2 separate regions of the Homo sapiens genome follow, and region 2 is linked to region 1. A link means that fine-mapping ties the variant in region 1 to the expression of a gene that starts in the linked region. Tissue or cell type: whole blood. Region 1 holds a variant in brackets; the other region holds the start of a gene. All regions are shown on one strand. Distances are between the middles of the regions.

Evidence for each region. PIP is the estimated chance that this variant, and not a neighbour inherited with it, causes the effect.
Region 2: EPHB6 starts here. The variant in region 1 is fine-mapped to the expression of EPHB6 in whole blood (TOPMed, PIP above 0.99).

Annotation. Positions count from the first base shown.
Region 1 is chr7:142,810,481-142,813,239 of GRCh38, forward strand. It overlaps TRB and TRBV30. Among named protein-coding and RNA genes, the nearest start is that of PRSS2, 41 kb to the left of the region's middle. The variant C/T (reference allele first, on the strand shown) is at 1,650.
Region 2 is chr7:142,854,065-142,856,564 of GRCh38, forward strand. It overlaps EPHB6 (EPH receptor B6), which reads left to right and starts at 1,012. Exons shown (of 20, transcript NM_004445.6): 1 at 1,012-1,321.

The DNA.
Region 1 (2,759 bases):
AACTATTAGCCTCCTAAAGAGCTAAACTTAGCTACAATTTTATGTCCTTTGTGAAGTTTTCCAGAATTTTTGCAGTATATTACAGGAAGGAAAAATCTGCCTCAAGTCTCTACTAATTCTACTTGACTAGTGGTGATTGCCTGAGACATTTCTCTATTAATGAGGATTCTGAAGCTGTATAAAGCCCCTACAGAATCAGCATCTGAATAGGCACAGCATAGGGTTCAAGTTTCATGGTTTTGCCATCCAAGCATGTTTAGCATTTTAAATATTAATATTTATTACATACTTGTAGTTTATGATTTGAAATTTTTTAACTAAGTCTTCCTCTTGGGTAAGTTGTAATGAAAATAATCTTGTAAGCTTAAGGAGCGGAAAATAATACCTGTTGAAAATTAGAGCTTGTAATAGGGCTTTATAAACACCATCTCATTTAATACACATAACAATTCAATGAGGCAAGTTTTATAGGTGGGGAAAAACTTGAAACTTAGTAAAATTAAATAACTAGGTCAAGTTCATAACAACTAGCAAATTTTTAGACTACAAAAATCAAGTGCTTTGACTAAATCATGCTATGACTGTGCCCAACACCATCTCGAGTACATTTTATTTTTCTTTTTAATCCTCAAAATGACTCACTGTGTCCAGCAAATAATAGCTGCTTAATACATAGGTGATCCTTAAAGTTCAGTAGGGACCCCTGGGCATTATTCCATATGTTCTTGATCACTCTGTGTCTACATCTCAGATTTTCCACTTCAGATTAAATGATACTAGAAATATGCACGTGTCTGGATTGATCTAGGTTAAATGATGCCCGGAATGGAGTATTTTAAGACATCTTGTGCCCCCTTGTGGAGGGGAAGGGACATTAGAAAGAAAATCTTTTTAAGAACAAGGACTAGGGAGGGATGGGGATGAGGAAGGAAGCTCAGTTGCCAAGGTAACCATCGAACCTCTTCCCAGCCATCCACATCAGCCTTTTCCTCTCCTTCATTTCCATCCAAGTGATTTCTCTTTTTTAGAGCTCAACCATTACACACACGGTCCTCTTCTTGCGTATCTCTTGGATCACCATCTGTCTGTCTTTGCTACAAAGGAAGGGCTACAAGATAGTACAACAGGACATTTTTTAAAACCTCAAACATCACCAAAATTTCTAAGTGCAAGCTTATTTTTATTTTTTTTTTTTTTGAGACAGAGTCTCGCTCTGTCACCCAGGCTAGAGTGCAGTGGCATGATCTTGGCTCACTGCAACCTCCACCTCCCAGGTTCAAGTGATTCTCTTGCCTCAGCCTCCCAAGTAGCTAGTATTACAGACGCCTGCCACCACGCCCGGTTAATTTTTGTACTTTTAGTAGAGACAGGTTTCACCATATTGGCCAGGCTGGTCTCAAACTCCTGACCTCAGGTGATCCTCCTGCCTCAGCCTCCCAAAGTGCTGGGATTACAGGCATGAGCTACCACGTCTGGCCTAAGTGCATGTTACCTATACTAACAAAACCACACTTCTGCCTCGAATGAGAACAGTCTCCTGAACATCTTGCCTCTTTGCCTGACTCAAAGCCTCAGGTCTAAGCCTCCCCATAATTTCTAGTCTCAGCAGAAAGATCAATGACAGGAGACTCTCCAGGTGATGAAATTAA[C/T]CAATTAAGTAACCTGGGTTGGCATCCTCCCGTTTGTTCACCAGCTCACCTCCTGCCACAGGTATATCCTTTCTCTCAGCCATATATGCACAAACCCCCTCCCCACGGCACACATAGAAGAATTTGGAAGACTAGAAAATCAGGCAAGGTATAGCACACCTTGAGGGCTGGAGTATGGTAGCCTGGGCCGGGACATCCATACATTGAGAACTTGACTATGTGCAGGCAAATCACAGGTTCTGCACACATACAATTTTTTGTTCTCCCTGAGAACTTAGTAGAGTCTTTTGTAGAATTCTCGCTTTATTCCATTGCTTTCACATTGGCCAGCAGTCAGAAACCTACTTACAAATATCCTCCACCCAGTCCCTAAGTGAAGGCCCCTGGGGAGTATGGTTAGGGCTCAGGAGAGGGTGGGGTTTTTGCACAGATGTCTGCCCCACCCAGCTCAGTGTGACACTCCAGGCACAGAGATAGAAGCCAGAGTCACTGAGAAGGAGCTTCTTAGAACTCAGGATGAACTGCCGGTCCTGGGGTCTGGAGGCTGAGAGATTCTGGGGCACCTCAGAGCTGATCTGGCCAATACCAACGGAGTAGAAGAGCAGCTGGAGGCCCCTGCCTGCAGCCTGTCGGTACCAGTATAGGTTGGGGTTTGATGTTCCCTCCACAGTGCACTCCAGAGAGAGCGGGCTGCCCACAGGCTGCACCAGGGTCGCTGGCCATTGATGAATAGTCTGAGATCTGACCCCTGTGGGAAAGATAAAGTGCCATTTACAGAGGAGCACCCCAGCCTGGCTTGCCTTCCCCAGACAGAGGGGCAGCTCAAGCTCTTGCATGACACAGGCACCTGGAATCCATCATGGGGAGTAGACTGGGGGAGCCAAGGATGCAAAGCATCCCTGGGCCAGGGAAGACCAACAGAACGAACTCCTTCTCAGGAGATAGAGAGAACTAAGAATCATCAGATCAGCCCCTAAGGCTAAATTCCCATATCTGTTCCAGACAATCAGGAATAGACTCAAGAGTGTCAAACCAACAGCTCAGACTCTGCATTCACGGGATTGGGGTGAGGGTGAGGATGAGAAAAGAGGCTTGCCAGAGAGGAGGGCA
Region 2 (2,500 bases), 43 kb after region 1:
TGGCAAGGCCCCAGCCCAGCTCTGTAGGACCCAAACAATAGACCCCAAATCCCCGTCCTCGGCTAGAGAAGGGGTTAGAGGTGGGCGGAAACACTTTTCCTCGCGGCGCCCCCTCGGTTCCTCAACCCTGCCTCCAGGCGCCAGCTGAGAGCACCTTGCACCGCCCCTCCTCACTGCAGGGAGGTTCTCTCCGGAGCGCGGGCGAGGGAGGAGGCACCCAGAGGTGCAGCGACTTGCCCAAGCCATGTCAGAGCCAGGCGTACAGCAGCGCTTCCCCTTTTCAACCCGACTGCCCTGCCCCTTGGGGAGGGTAGATGGAGGGAGGTTCGACTCAGAAGCCCCAACGTTGACCAAGATCCAGACACGAAAAGAGAAAAGAGTTCCCGGCTAGCACGGCGACGCTTTCATACCGAGACGCCCCCCTCTCCCGCTGCCTCGGCTCCCCCTACCACCGCCCGTACTCTCCCAGATTTCTCAGTTTGTCTTTCCCTCCACCCCCTGCTTTTCCTTCCTTCTCTCTTGCTCAGCTCACGCCCACCTTAGTTCCAAGCTGAGTAGGAGCCCCACTGTTTTAGTTCCTAGAGTTAAAGCCGAAGAGGAGGGAGGCGCGAGGGGGTGTGTGCAGGGCTCTGCCCTGCCCTGAACTGCCACGGTCCGCCAGTTGCGCTTCGCTCCGCGGGTGTCCGACCCAAGCCGAGCCCGAGCCCGAGCCCAGGCAGGGGCTTTACAGACAGCCTCTTCCCTTCCCACTTCCTGCAGGCGCCCCACGCGTGCGATCCTCCCGGCCAAGACCCGCGGGAGGAGGCCGCCCCCTTCCCGGCGCACAGGCGGGGCCCCGGGCGCGCCCCGCGTCTCCCCCGCGCGCCGGGGCGGAGGAGCGGGCGCCGCGCACTCACCGCCTAGGCCGGGAGGGCGGGCTCGGCTCCCCGGAAGAAGGGAGTGGGAAGGCGGCCAAAGGGGCTGAAGGGGCGGGCCGGGCCGGCTTGGGAGGGGACGCGGAGGGGGCGGGCCGGGCTGCGTTCGCTCCAGCCGCGGCTCTACAGCAGCGGGCGGCGGGACCCGGGACCCAGCTTGGCGACGGCGATCTCGACGCGGGCCCCCAGGATCTCCCGGCGCCCCACCTCTGGAGCAGCCCCTGCCGCCAGCGTCAGGTCCACCCCGGAATCCCAGGGACTCTCGGCGCCGAACGGACCCGGGCCGGGTGCAACGGGGTCCCCGGACTGGAGAAGACGCGGGTGGCACCGTGCGAGCTCCAGGAGCCCCGGGTCCACTGCGAGGCCTCGGGGGGCGCAGACCTGCAGAGACTGCGGCCAACGGGAAGGTGAGCCCGCGGGGTTAGCAGGCGGCGTTGTGGGGGTCGGGGACAGTATGCTTGGGGACAGAGGAATTAAGGTTTGCAAGAGTAGTGGGGCTCCTCAGCCCCTAGGTGGCTTCCTGAGGGAGTACTGAGGATCCTTCCTCAAGGCCAGAGTGGGGTTCATGAAGGGTGAGGAAACGGTCAACCTGGCTACTCCCCTCTCACTCCACTCTGACCTGGCATCATTGACACCGCATTACCCTTGCTGTTAGGATCCCCCAGTTGCGTTCCCAGACATTCTCCTCTGGCTCTGGCTTGGGAGTCCTAATCTGGGAGGGTCCTCGCAGAGACGGAGCTCCACGCTTGGAACAGGATTGCCACCCCTCTGACTCCAGTGGCATCACTCCAATCCCCTTGGAGCTGGGAGGAGTCAGGAGGCTGACCACACACCTGTCCCCTGCTCCCCACAAGGCACTGTCCCCCCCAGCTCCATGACCACAGTTAAGCCTTGGAGGTGGAAGGAACGCTTGGTTCCTGCTGCCCAGCCATCACCCCCAACGTGCAACCAAATTCTATTGCGTGCTCCTGCCCCAGCTCCACCCTCGCTCTGCTCCCTCCATCTGGGTGCTTGGCCCTGCTTGCCCCACACCCCCACCCACCGATCTTGGCCGTCTGGCACCCTCTCTCCTCCCATCCCTGGGGGAGCTGGCATGGACCCAGCATAGCAATGTTGTAATGTCCCTGGCAGCGCCCATGGAGCGGAGCTGCTGGGTCTGTTCCCAGTTAACCCAGGCCCTCCGCCCGCCAGGGGAACTTGACTGAGGCTCTAGGAGGGGAGATGCTGGTCCTGAGCTGAGAGACCAGTGGGAGGGAGCTGTGTGGGGCTGTTAGTAGACCACAGAAGCTGCCCAAGTAAGGGGCATTGGAGCATTGAGGCTTCTGAGTGCTGCTCAGTGGGGCCACTTGGCTTTTCAGAGCAGTGGGCCTTTTTTCTCAAAGGAAGATTAGCGTGGGGGTGTCTATGTACTTACCTGGTGGCCTCAGAAGGAGGACTTGTTTGGAGTCTATTACTCCATTCAGGGTGCAAAAAGATGGTTGGCAATGACACTGAGTTACCAGAATGCTGGGGAGCAACAGGCTGGGGTGGGCTGAGCATGGGAAAGGCAGGATCCTCCTTCTGGGACGGCTGTTCTGCTATCACTC